Homo sapiens: one gene and its partner. Each later gene encodes a partner of the first gene's protein in a complex. Each region holds a gene or a part of one and is shown on either strand. Other genes may lie near its edges.

What was found.
Region 2: RINT1 (region 1) and NBAS share a complex: the UniProt entries of both Homo sapiens proteins name them as parts of the NRZ complex.

The regions. Positions count from the first base shown.
Region 1 is NC_000007.14:105,534,942-105,542,217, forward strand, and holds part of RINT1 (RAD50-interacting protein 1), read left to right. Parts: intron 1-1,623; coding exon 1,624-1,808; intron 1,809-6,785; exon of another isoform or gene 6,786-6,914; intron 6,915-7,276. UniProt on the Homo sapiens protein: Involved in regulation of membrane traffic between the Golgi and the endoplasmic reticulum (ER); the function is proposed to depend on its association in the NRZ complex which is believed to play a role in SNARE assembly at the ER.
Region 2 is NC_000002.12:15,558,208-15,565,514, forward strand, and holds the start of NBAS (NBAS subunit of NRZ tethering complex), read right to left. Parts: upstream 3,128-7,307; 5' UTR 3,098-3,127; coding exon 2,981-3,097; intron 428-2,980; coding exon 373-427; intron 1-372. UniProt on the Homo sapiens protein: Involved in Golgi-to-endoplasmic reticulum (ER) retrograde transport; the function is proposed to depend on its association in the NRZ complex which is believed to play a role in SNARE assembly at the ER. Required for normal embryonic development.

The DNA of each region.
Region 1 (7,276 bases):
TAATCTTTACATAAATAGTTGACCAATATCTGACATTTACATTTTGCACTTAGGCATATCATTATTTAGATATTAATATTAATAAGCCTAATGTGTATTGGACTTATTAAATGTCACAAAACAGGTAGTTTATTTGCCATGGAAAGAATCTCACTTTATACTATTTAGTGGTTGCATTTGTCATTTTGATTTTTTCCTAGTAATTTGTTCTCTCATATTTTCTTTTTTCTGTTTCTGACAAAGATATCTTTGTACAATGACATCGATGACATTTGAAGCTTAAAAACCTTTTTTTTTTTTTTTTTTGAGGCAGAGTCTCACTCTGTTGCCCAGGCTGGAGTGCAGTGGCGTGATCTCGGCTCACTGCAACCTCCGCCTCCCGGGTTCAAGCGATTCTTCTGCCTCAGCCTCCCGAGTAGCTGGGACTATAAGCGTGCACCGCCATGCCCAGCTAATTTTTGTATTTTTAGTAGAGACAGGTTTTCACCATATTGGCCAGGCTGGTCTCGAACTCCTGACCTTGTGATCTGCCTGCCTCAACCTCCCAAAGTGCTGAGATTACAGGCCTGAGCCACCTCGCCCAGCCAAACCTTTTTTACTTTTTTGTTTGTTTGTTTGTTTGTTTTTAAGAGATGAGGTCTTGCTCTGCTGTCCAGGCTGGAATGTAGTAGTGAGATCATGGCTCACTGCAGCCTCCATCTCCCAGGCTGCTCAAGCAATCCTCCCACCTCAGCCCACCTGAGACTACAGGTGTGTTCCACCATTCCTGGCTAATTTTGTTAGATGAAGTCTTGCTTTGTTGCCTAGGCTGGTCTAGAACTTCTGGGCTCAAGTGATCCTCCTGCCTTGGCCTCCCACAGTGCTGGGATTACAGGTGTGAGCCCCTGCGCCCGGTCTTTTTAAAAACACTTTAAAACAAGAGTCTTCTTTTGGTGTTGCCCTAGACCATACTACTGGTTCCTTACACATTTTGAAAAGGTATTATTCCTTGTCTATTGAAACCTGTGGTTACTGGATCACACTTTAGGAATTTTTCCTTTAATACTTCCCTCAGCTCTTAAGCATTTTGCAGTAGTTGTTTGATAGAGTGCTTTAGAGCTATTCTTCTGGGCATTTGTCTGTGTGTGTTGTTCTTTAAATTATTAACTTTGTTTTGTTTTGGTTTTGTTTTTTGATACAGAGTCTCTGTCGCCCAGGCTGGAGTGCAGTGGCGCTTTGTTTTGGTTTTGTTTTTTGATACAGAGTCTGTCTGTGTCGCCCAGGCTGGAGTGCAGTGGTGTGATCTTGGCTCACTGCAACCTCTGCCTCTTGGGTTCAAGGGATTCTCGTGCCTCAGCCTCCCGAATAGCTGGGACTACAGGCCTGTGCCCCCACGCCTGGCTAATTTTTGTATTTTTAGTAGAGACGGGATTTCGCCGTGTTTGCCAGGCTAGTCTTAAACTCCTGGCCTCAGGTGATGCACCTGCCTCAGCCTCCCAAAGTGCTGGGATCACAGGTGTGAGCCACCGTGCCTGGCAAAATTATTAACTTTTGAAGGCAGATAAACTGCTTTTATATGTTTTATATTTTCTTTAACTCCATAGTACTTAGTGGCGTTGAGTAATTGTTATTCTTTTGTTGTAGGTGACATAAATGTTACAGTTCTTATTGGAAGTAAACAAGTCAGTGAAGGTACAGATAATGGTGATCTCCCTTCTTATGTGTCTGCATTCATAGAAAAGGAAGTTGGAAATGACCTTAAATCTTTAAAGAAACTTGATAAACTCATAGAACAGAGGACAGTAAGTAAAATGCAGTTAGAAGAACAGGTAAGTATTGAAACTCACTGAAATAATTATCAGTGGAATACTTTTAACAATATAATATAAACATAATCTATTATATATAGAATTTTAAAGATATAGAACGTGACAAATAGTCTATTATATACTGTTTAAGAGGATTTAAGAACGTACATTGTATTACCTATTTTACAAATTAGGTAAAAGACAAAGTTCCTACTGATATGGTTTGTCTTCAAAACATAGTGAGACCTAACATTTTACATAGATTTTCATAGAGTGACTTTTTTTTCCTTTCAATCTGTTTCTAGTGAACATACAGTGACTTTTAAATTGCTTTTACAAGCAAATAATTTCATGGCATACAAAAATATATACCATGGTGTAAACACCATCATTTCAATTTTTTTTTTTTTTTTTTTTTTGAGACGGAGTTTTGCTCTTGTTGCCCAGGTTGGAGTACAATGGCGCCATCTTGGCTCACTGCAACCTCTGCCTCCCAGGTTCAAGCAATTCTCCTGCCTTAGCCTCCCATGTAGCTGGGATTACAGGCATGTGTCACCCTGCCCAGCTAATTTTGTATTTTAGGTAGAGATGGGGTTTCATCATGTTGGCAAGGCTGGTCTTGAACTCCTGACCGCAGGTGATCCACCTGCCTTGGCCTCCCATAGTTCCGGGATTACAGATGTGAGCTGCTATACCCGGCCACATTTCAGATTTTAATAAATGTACCCATAGGGAGAAGTATAAAGTGAAAAGAAGTATAACGTAACGGTTATTTCTGTGTGGTTGGTTGACAAGTGATGTATTTAAAAAATATTTTTAGGCCTGGCACGGTGGCTCACACCTGTAATCCCAGCACTTTGGGAGGCCAAGGCAGGTGGATCACCTGAGGTCAGGAGTTTGAGACCAGCCTGACCCACATGGTGAAATCCCGACTCTACTAAAAATACAACAAAAAAAATTAGCCAGGTGTGGTGGCGGGCACCTGTAATCCCAGCTACTCGGGAGGCTGAGGCAGGAGAATCGCTTGAACCCAGGAGGCGGAGTTTGCTGTGAGCTGAGATCATGCCATCGCACTCCAGCCGGGGCAACAAAAGTGACACTCCGTCTCAAAAATATATATTTCTATGTATTTATAGGTTTTTTTTTCTTTTACAATGAACATATCACTTAAAATAATTTTTTAAAAACCCAATGAGTATAAGCTTAAACAAAAAAATAAGTAGGCCCCTCTACTTGGCAATGGTGTGTTTGTCAAAGATAAAACATTTTTTTCTTTTTTTTTGAGACGGAGTCTGACTCTGTCGCCCAGACTGGAGTGCAATGGCGTGATCTCGGCTCACTGCAACCTCTGCCTCCTGGGTTCAAGTGATTCTCCTGCCTCAGCCTCCCGAGTAGCTGGGACTACAGGCACGCGACACCACGCCCAGCTAATTTTGGTATTTTTAGTAGAGACAGGGTTTCACCACTTGGGCCAAGATGGTTTCGATTCCTTGACCTCGTGATCCGCCTGCCTTGGCCTCCCAAAATGCTAGGGTTACAGGCATGAGCCACCACACCCGGCCAAGATAAAACATTTTTATCATATAGCTACTAAATTAGGTTAAGTAAATTCTGTGTGGGTTATTTCCAGGTTTTTGGTCATCGTATATTCTCCTGTCCCCATTACCTTAGGCCTCCACACCTTCCTGTCTTCCCACCACAACTACTGCTAGTCTTCAAGTTTAGCCTGGCTTTGTCTGCCTTTTCACTCCTGCAGGCAGGTTGTTGTGGGCCCAGTTGGAGGAAGTCATGCAGCTGAGTAGATTGATGCCAATCTATGTGTGTGGTCTGCCACCCTGGCTGAGTCTTCAGCCCCACCAGCAGTCCTTCCATGGGAACGTCAGCTCCTCTGCTACTCCCCTCAACTGTTCTTTCAGATTCTGTTTGAGACATCTACCCAACCTGTCCATTCTGCCCTTTCCTTTTCCCTAGCAGAAAAAAATAGAAGCCTAGCATGAATTTAGTAGCATTGAATTCAGTCTGTTGAATAGTCTATCCCACAATCGACAAATTTATGTGCAGTCATTTTTAACCTCTTCATTCAGCAAAGGATCAGTCGAAGGCAGACCTTATACCCCAGGTTCTCTCTGCCACCTCAGTAAACTTGTGTCACTCTTATAATTTTACCCTGTGTTCGTCAACCAGTCCTATCCCTTCAGCATGTGCACATAGACAGGTCTTTTCCATAAAACCTTAACAAAGAAACAAAAAAACCCATGATCTTTTAGCAGGTATTAGTTCTTTCCTTTGATTGTCAGGCTTCAGAAAGTAACCTTTGTTATCTATCTCTACTTTTTGTCATTCATCTTTTACCCACTGTAATCAGGTTTGTTTCCCTAATGACCACAGAAACTTTTACTGAAGTTCCTTATTGAACCTTAAATTCAGCATGTCCAAAACTATACTGATCCATTTTTTAGAGGCTTGTCTGTCTTGGTTAGATAATGGCACCACTATTTGCCTGTCACCCAGACCTGAAGCCTAGGAGTCCTAGATTCCTTCTTATCATCCTCTCATCCTCTATCCCATCACCAAGTCATCTGAGTTCAGCCTCAACATCTCTGGTATCCATCCCATCTTTCCCACTCTTTTTTTTTTTTTTTTTTTTTTGAGTTGGAGTTTCACTCTTGTTGCCCAGGCTGGAGTGCAATGGCACAATCTTGGCTCACTGCAACCTCCACCTCCTGGGTTCGAGTGATTCTCCCGCCTCAGGCTCCCAAGTAGCTGGGATTATAGGCATGTGCCACCACGCTCGGCTAATTTTGTATTTTTGGTAGAGATGGGGTTTCTCCATGTTGGTCAGGTTGGTCTCAAACTCCCAACCTCAGGTGATCTGCCCGAAAGTGGATCTTGGCCTTCCAAAGTGCTGGGATTACAGGCGTGAGTCACTGCTCCCGGCCCATCTTTCCCACTCTTGCTGATACCATGTTAGTTTAGGCAGATTGGGAGCTTTGTAGAAATGCAGAATCTCAGTCTTACTTCAGACTTACTGTATCAGAATCTGTATTACAACAAGATCTTTAGGTGATTAATGTGCCCATTCATTAAATATAGCCTGTCTATTTTATTGCATTAATCCCACTGTTGAAATTATTTGCTTACAACACTCTTATATACCAAAGTGACCTGAAGGACGGATGCTGTGTCTTGTTTATCTGCATATTTCTAGCGCAGTGCCTGGTACAGAATAAGTATCTAATCACTGTTGATTGAAATTATTCTATAATGTTCTTTGTATTTTGCTGATGACTAATATTTGTATATGTTTTCCCACATACTATAAGAAAAATTCACTTAATAAATGCCATTTTCTTTTTTTTTTTTTTTTTGAGATGGAGTCTTCCTCTGTCGCCCAGGCTGGAGTGTGGTGGTGTGATCTCAGCTCACTGCTACCTCTGCCTTCCGGGTTTCAAGTGATTCTCCTGCCTCAGCCTCCTGAATAGCTGGGATTACAGGCATGCGCCACCATCCTCAGCTCATTTTTGTATTTGTATTTATTTTATTTTATTTTTTGAGACAGAGTCTCACTCTGTCGCCCAGGCTGGAGTGCAGTGGAGCGATCTCAGCTCACTGTAACCTCCGCCTCCTGGTTTCACCAATTCTCCTGCCTCAGCCTCTTGAGTAGCTGGGATTACAGGCTCATACTACCACACCCGGCTAGTTTTTGTATTTTTATTAGAGACGGGGTTTCACCATGTTGGCAAGTGTGGTCTCAAACTCCTTACCTCAAGTGATCCACCAGCTTCTGCCTCCCAAAGTGCTAGGATTACAGGCATGAGACACTGTGCCCGGCTGAATTTTTGTATTTTTAGTAGAGACAGGGTTTCACCATGTTGGCTAGGCTGGTCTCGAACTCCTGACCTCCAGTGACCTGCCCTCCTTGGCCTCCCAAAGTGCTGGGATTACAGGTGTGAGCCACTGCACCTGGCCACTAAATGCCCTTTCTAAAGGCATTGCCTGGATATCATCTCATCAAGTCAGTGCTTCTTAGCCTGGCCTTAATTCAGAATCACCTGGGGTATGTTGGCAAAATATAGATGCTCAGCCTGTTAGAATGAGATCTTTGTTTCCTTTTTTTTTTTTTTTTTGATATGGAGTCTCGCTCTGTCACCCAGGCTAGATGGCAGTGGCGCAGTCTCGGCCCACTGCAACCTCTGCCTCCCGGGTTTAAGAAATTCTCTGCCTCAGCCTCCCAAAGTGCTGGGATTACAGGTATGTGCCACCATGCTCAGCTAATTTTTTTGTATTTTTTAGTAGAGACAAGATTTTGCCATCTTGGCCAGGCTGGTCTTGAACTCCTGACCTTGTGATCCACCCACCTTGGCCTCCCAAAGTGCTGGGATTACAGGTGTGAGTCACCGCACCCAGCTTGCATTTTTTTTTTTCTTCTTTGAGGAGTCTTGCTCTGTCACCCAGGCTGGATGGAGTGCGGTGGTGCAGTCTCAGCTCACTGCAACCTCCTCCCGGTTCAAGTGATTCTTGCCTTGGCCTCTCTAGAGCTGGGATTACAAGGTGTGTGCCACCAAACCTGGCTAGTTTTTGTATTTTTAGTAGAGATGGGGTTTCATCATGTTGGCCAGGCTGGTCTTGAACTCCTGACCTCAAATGATCCGCCTGTCTTGGCCTCCCAAACTGCTGGGATTACAGGTGTGAGCCACCGTGCCCGGCCCTTCCTTTGCTTTGAAGGAAAATATTTAGCAGGTAGAGCATGTATTAATAAGTTTTCTCGGCCTGGCACGGTGGCTTATGCCTGTAATCCCAGCACTCTGGGAGGCTGGGGTGGGCGGATCATGAGGTCAGGAGTTCGAGATCAGCCTGACCAACGTGGTGAAACCCCGTCTCTACTAAAAATACAAAAATTAGCCGAGCGTGATGGCACGTGTCTATAATTCCTGCTATTTAGGAGGCTGAGGCAGGAGAATCACTTGACCCCGGGAGGTGGAGGTTGCAGTGAGCTGAGATCACGCCACTGCACTCCAGCCTGGGTGACAGAACGAAACTCTGTCTCAAAAAAATAAAATAAGTTTTCTCTAGCTGGATCCTCTGCTGAGCCTATGGAGGCAGACCTCTAGATGCTTACTGGAGCCAGTGAGTTAAGTCCCTTTCTCTACATGTATGTGTATATGTATGTATGCATATATTTTTTATTTTATTTTTATTTTTTTGTTTCACTTATTGTTTTCAACACAAAGGCATACTTCTTCCTGCTATTTGTGTGTATATAAAACAGCATGTTATGTTTGGATTGATTAGTACAGGATGAAGAAATCAAACCTTTTTTTGAAGGTTTTGATGGATGATTTTCAGTTCTGTTACAAAAAATGTGTATTTTGAAGGGAACGAACTAATAAAAAAGGTTACATACAGCCTGGGCAACATAGTGAGACCTTATTTCTATTTAAAGAAAAAAAAAAAAGAAAAGCCAGGTGTAGTGGTGCATATGTGTAGTC
Region 2 (7,307 bases), on another chromosome or scaffold:
ACAGGAAGTGGAGCTCAGGTGGTAATGCTCACTCACCCATCGCTCACCTCCTGCTATGCAGCCTGTTTCCTAACAGACCACAGACTGGTACCAGTCCATGGCCCAGGAATTGAGGACACCTGTTCTAGAATACATCCATAATGGTTAAACCAAAGCTATATACTTTAGCTCTAAGCTGCATTAGAGCTAAAAACGTGCATGCGTAAATATACAAATGTATACATATACATACATATGTGTGTATATATAAATATATATATAATTAAACTCAGATAACACACATTACTTTTATTAGGCTCCACATCAGAAGTCTAAAGAACACATTTTAACTGTTAACCATATCATTACTGTAGAGAAATAAGCTATATTTACCTCGAATTGCTTTCGTGATGATAAAGGATGCACCATGTTTTTGGTTGCCTCTAGGCTGGAATTTAAAACAAAAAACACTTACATTTGAATCTTCTAGTAGTATTAGACCAGTATTACTTATACAATATGTAAACTTATTTTTATTTACTAATACTCAGAGTTTTGGGCACAGGGAAGCAGTGTCTTAAAACTACTTAAAGACTGGATGTTCAGGTGCAGTGGCTCACGCCTGTAATCTCAGCACTTTGGGATGCCAAGGTGGGCTGACTGCTTGAGCCCAGGAGCTCCAGACCTGCCTGAGCAACGTGGCAAAACCTCATCTCTACAAAAAATACAAAAATTGGCCAGGCATGGCGGTGCATGCCTATAGTCCCAGCTACTTGGGAAGCTGAGGTGACCCAGGAGGTTGAAGCTACGAAGCTACAGTGAGCCCTGATCATGCCACTGCACTCCAGCCTGGGTGACAGAGTGAGACCCTGCCTCAAAAAAAAAAAAAAAAAAAAAAAAAGTAGACACAGGACGCGGGACAATAGGAGAAAAGTGAGCATAGCAGAGCTACAGGCACATGTCAGGACTAACCTTGCAGGAAAGAACAAGGATTGAAGCTGGAAACTGTTTCCAAATCAAAAACCAATCCAAAGACAAGAGAAGTCAAGGCCAAAGACCATACTGGTTGCCAGTTCAGCATACTCTATTGAGGCTGTAAGTTTTGCTCACAGGAAAAGTGGTCATATCTCCAAGGCCAATTCATTGACTATCTGTTGTGTATCTATACAGACAATGCTACTAACAAAACATACACAGATACGTAATTGCTATATTAAATAATTCCATTCCATAAGTATAGACTGAACACACCGTGGGTAGGTTCATGACGCTAGGCACTGCATAAGATGCACTAAAGTGCTGTCAAGAAAAGCACAATGGACATACAGTAAGTGTAGACAGATTTTTTTAAAAAACACAGAAAAGTTATTTCACTCAATAAACATGAATTGATTGTTGGATTCATGCAAGACACAATTTGGCCCTGGGAAGAGATATAAAGATGAATCAGATGTCTGCCCTCCAAGAGCTTATAATTCAACAGCTGAAATCAACAGAATGCAGAAATCGATAGAATGCAGAAATCAATTGAACTCCCCCACCCCCAACACACAAACACAAAACAAAGTGCTAAGGGTTTCAAAGTAAGTTAATTCTGTGGTTACTTTTTTGGAATCAATTTATGGTAAGCATTCTGAAACATTACTGCAATTAACCAATGAGTGTTAAGGAGTGGAAACTTATCTAACCAGCTGCCTCAGCAACAGCTTCCTAGCTGCATAACCCAAAAAATATTCACATTAAGACAAACTAAGTACTTGAAATTAAACAGTAATATATGCAGATCTCTACCCGTCTACAAAATAAATTATTCATGATAAGCACAAACTGCAGTGGGAAGGAGGCTACAGAGGAAAAAAATACAAACTTTGGGCTGAAAAATGAGTCGTTTCTCCAGCAAAGAAACACTCAGAAAAAATGTAAGATAACTCACATGGGCTGGACTACATAATCTTTAATAAAGGTTCTTTTCGATCTGGCTGCTTCCTCTGGGTCTAAAACAGTAACTGGCACGTGTTAAGCACTCAATAAATATCTGTTAAATAAACATGGATCCAAAAAATAATAATAATAAAAAATAAAATAAAATAAACATGGATCCATGGTTCCTACTCTTCATCACAGACCCGGGAGGCCTTCACTACCAAACAACTGATAATCCCAAGATCCAGTCCATAAATTATCAACCTCTATAACCCTTCTGTAGCGGAGATCCCAATCCCAGTCAGCAGCTCTTTACTCTGCACTTCCGTGGCATTTTGCTCACATCGCTAACTATAGCGCATAAAACGCTAGGTTATGAAAAACGTTTACGGGACTGTCTCCCCTCTAGACGAGAAGCTCCACGAAAACATATTCATCTCTGTATCCTTAGCACCTAGCACAGCACCTGTGACACCGAGACAGACGAACGGACACGCACACCCTTATTAAATGCTCTTTTATTGAAACACACAAGACCTGGCGCGATCCAGCCCCCAGTATGGGTAAAGGCTCAGATTCTGCGCTCTGCACCAGCCTGGCAGATGCTGCAGACTGTAAGGTCCTGGAAAATTCTCCCATCGCAGTTGAGCGTCGGCCCAGACTAGCCCTAGCCAGACCGCGAGAAGGGACCACTGAGGGTCCAGATAGGAGAAAGGACCCTCGAGTCCAGCGCTGTGCCTTCCCCTCCTAATACAGAGAGCGACACTAACAATCCCCTCTCCTCCCAATACAGAGAGCGAAACTGAGAACCAAAGTGGGATCGTACGCTCCCCAGAGCACGAAGTTCCAGCCCCCAACAACCGAATTCTGAGCCCAGGAAGAATCTCAGGGACCACCACCCCACCCCGCCCTAGACCCCCGCTAGCCCAAGGTGCCGTTGCCAAGGCGACCGCACAAGCCAACCGGCCCTAGTCCCCCACCCACCCGTCTCCACTCCCCTACGTGGCTCCTGCTACGTGGCTCTACCCACGAAGCGCCCGCGCCAAGCTGGCTGCTGCTGTAGATGGGCCTGGTTCACCTGTACTTCAGTCTCCGGTGGCCACTCGGTGTTGACCAACAAGTCATAGAGAATCGTCTCCTCCTCACCCTCTGCAGTGCCTGGACTCAAAGCCGGCCCTGACTCGGGGGCCGCCATGTTCGCCGAGGACTCAGGCAGCGGAGGAGTGTCTCTACGGAATCCCTCACAGGACAAGCTTCTCTATCCGCGGCCGCTTTTGTTTCACGGCAAGGAAATGCTAGGTTAACCCTTTTATGAGTAGGAAGGACAGGGACTATTGCTTGTCTTGGGAACGACTTGTGTCCCGGTCCTGATACACTCCTTGTTCATTAATCTACATGAGATCGGCCAAGTCATTGAGCCTCTCTTATAACTCAGTTTCCATAAAACAGAAATGGTAAAGGTACCCCACTGAAATGCTAATGTTCATTTGTATATTCTTTGCCTAACACGTAGAGAGAGTTCAAACAGTGGTTTTAAAATAAACAACTAAAGTTATCCAATGAAAGGTAGCAGAGGAAGGATGCTACAGGAGCTCAGAAAAGGCAACGAAGGCCAGAGTCTGCAGGGATTTCCTGGAGGACGTGGAGCTTGTCCCTGCGTCTTTAACAATAGGCAGAATTTTAATCTACTGGAGAAGCATTTCAAGTAGCGGGAAATGGAATGAGCAGAGACAGAGGCAGAAATACAGAGTTGAAAGAACTCTTTCAACGTGTCGCCAGTGAGTGACGACTTTCTCAGTGTGGGAGTAAAAGAATTTACCAAGACAGTGGTAGATAAAGAAAGACAGATTAAAGAAAGTATGAAAGTTCGTTGCCAGGGAGCAGCGGGCCGACTCAGCAGAGGAGGAGCTCATTGCTAGGAAACAAAGGCTTGTTGAGAATTTTATAGACTGGAACTTGGAGTGATTGATAACACCAGGTAGCAGGGAGTTAACTTGCTTTTTTTTTTTCTTTCTTTCTTTTTTTTTTTTTTTTTTTGTCAGCTGAAGTGTTTCAGAAATTGAGGCATTTGAAGGTAAGCAGGAAGTTTGTGAGTTAAGTACGTTATCTGGGTAGAAGGGCCATATGTCCTGGGCCATAAAGAAAAGTAGACCTATGGCTTATTTGTTTCTTCCTTTTGTTTATATGTTTTGGACCATGAAGAAAGACAGACGTATAGCTAATTTGCCTTATCTCTTTGTTTTTCCCTGCTCCCACTAGCCTGCCTTTTTTTTTTTCCTAATTAGTACTCAACAAGACGGGTGAATAGAACCCAAGTTGAGAAAGGGTGTAGGGGCAATAAAGTTGAAATAATAGGTTGAGAACCCGCATGGAGGGAGCGAAAAGGTCAACCCCATTTGTTCATTCATTCATTCATTCAACAAATACCTCTTTGTGGACAGTTATAAGCAGAGCCTACTGTAACATGAATGAATATATACTGTACAAAGTATTACACTGTTTCACATCAAAAGAAACACAAATACTGAATATCCCTTGAGATAATTATATTCATGATATCCATCAAGATGCATTAGGCGGTGATGCAATTAAAAGCCTCTGCTGGGAAGCCTCTAACCAGCTCCCATTTCTCTCAAAGTTTAATGACCTCAAAGCCCTACGTCATCTGCCTGCTCCCCTAAATCTCACACCTCATTTCCTGCTCCCCCTACTACCTTCAGCCACACTGGCTCTATTTCTGAACACACCAGACACACATCAACTTCAGGAGTTCTGCAAAGCCTGTCCCCTCCACTTGGAAGGCTTTCTACCAGATGTTTACCTGGTTCCTCCCTTATCTCCTTCAAGTTTTTGCTCAAATGTCGTCTCTCTCTGAAGCCTACCTTGACTGCTCATTTTTAAATTTGCAATGACCATTCTCCAACTCCAGCTTTCCAGAGCTGCTCTATTATTTTTTCCATTACACTTGTCATCACTTAAATGGCTATACAGTATATTTGCTTATTATCTGTCTCCATTCACTAAAAGGTAAGCCATGCCAGGTGCTCTATCTATATGCATGCAAATGCTATATCCATCCCTGCTATATCCCCAGAATTTATAACAGTGCCTGGCATAGAGCAGAGGACAAAATATATATTATTTGTTGAATAAATGACAGACTTCCCAGAAAATCTTTTACACATTGTCTCCCCATAGTATTTCTCTGCATAGCAGCTGTGCCCTTCAATCAAACCCCTCATTGTGAACACCAGACGTGTCTTCTCCCTACCGCACAAGGCTGACAAACTGTATACCTCCGGGGAGCCCCGCCCACATTGCATGCGGTAGAACATGAAGAGGCAGGAACACCATGCACATGGAATGCGGTGTGAGGGCTGGTTACTGGAGTCCTCCAGTACCTCAGTACAACCCCACCTATTTCTCCACACCAAGTTTCCTTGGCTCTTTATTCCTCTGTCTCATCCTTTCTCAGATAGATATTGGGGTTGCTTTCTGTTTCATCACTCTCTTCACCACTTTCACTCAATCTGTACAACCACGGCCAGGAGATAGCTGGTCAAACTGGCAAAGGATGCTTCCTTCTTAGCTGGTGTGCAAAGGGGACCACTGCAAATACACCATGAAGAATTTATTTATTTTACCATCATCACACTATTTTTGTTTGTTTGTTTTTGTTTTTGAAACAGGGTCTCACTCTTTCACTGAGGCCAGAGTGCAGTGGCACAAAGAGAGCTAACTGAAATCTCTACTTCCTGGGCTCAAGCAATCCTCCCACCTCAGCCTCCTGAGTTGCTGGGACCACAGGTGCATGCCACCATGCTGGGCTAACTTTATTATTTTTTGTAGAGATGGGGGGTCTTGGACTTCTGGGCTCAAGTGATCTGCCTCGGCCTCCCACAGTGCAGGGATTACAGGCACGCACCACCATGCCCAGCCTCACACCATGTTAATTGTTTTATCCATCCTCATCCATACCCCACTTACCATAGCATGTACAAAAGGACAGAAAACATAAACTCATGCCTGGCAGAGAGCTTCTACTCTGAAGAAACAACAACCGAAGTGTCACAGGATGAATCTATGCTATTTGGAGAGGGAGTATACATTTAACTTGAAGCAATCCCTGGAAGAAAAATTCTACTAGCAGAGATGCTCTGAGCAGGTAAGTGGGTTCTTAAACCTTCAGCACCACTAGTTAAAATCCAGAAGAGTTCCTGGAAGGGGAGAAATGTGAGGTGACCAATAAAAGGGAAGAAGATGGTAAGAATATGTATGCCACAAGAAGAACTCCAAATGTTGAATATCAGACACGGGTTGGAAAAGAAAAGACAAAGATCTGATCAAGTTCAACTGAATCAAAGGAATAGGATGACTTAAAACAGATTGAGTGGCTGAAGCCAAATTGCTACTTGGTCTTATTTACAGTGACTATATAGCAAAGTATCCAAACTGGGATATTTTTGAAAAGAAAAAGCCATGATTTTAATAGTTATGCTAGGACAACAAGCATGAAACAGGGCTGTCATGGGCAAACTGAGATGATTGTCACACTAATCCTAAACAGCAGAGTGGGTAATTTAATGAAGAGGTGGTGAGCGTTTCACAAGGATAGCAAGACTCTTCTGTTCGTCATTATTCTCTTCTTTCTTCCCTCGTGCTTGTAGTGACACTGGTCATTTTTGTCTGCCCAGGCCCTTTGCTTCCTTCGGAGACTGTTCTAGCTGCTCTTCATTCACTCAGTCAGATAATTCCTAGTGGGGCCGCCAATCCCCAAACTCTGCCCCCTTGACCCAAAGAACTCCATTCCTGCTACTTTGAGCATCAGGTTGAGAATCCTTCCCTGGGATTTTTTTTTTTTTTTAAGTGGAAATGGAGGAAAAGGCTCCTTGCCTTTTTGGGTCACAGAGTTTGAAGAATATTGGGGTTATTAGCATCCATCTTATTCATTCCAGAGAGAAAGCCTGTCTATATAGTGAAAGAATGAAACCAATACATTGAAAAAAACTGAGAAGAGAAAGAGGTAGAGACTTCATCTGATACAAGCATGCTTGAAACAAGAGACACCTGTATGATTCCATCTTCCCAGGTAAGTGATCTAGTTCATTCTCTTTTATGCTTCAACTAGTTTGAGTTTCTAGGCATTGAAACCACCCCTCTCTTGGTGTTTCTACCAGTGGAGTTTGCATTATTTATTTTACCTTAAAATATAGAATATCAGACACGGGTTGGAATAAGGATTTTACCTTATTTATTTATGTACGTATTTATTTAAGACAGGCTCTTGCTGTGTCACCCAGGCTGGAGTGCAGTGGCGCAAACACAGCTCACTGTAGCCTCAACCTCCTGGATGCAAGCGATCCTCTTGTCTCAGCCTCCCAAATAGCTGGGACTACATGCACGTG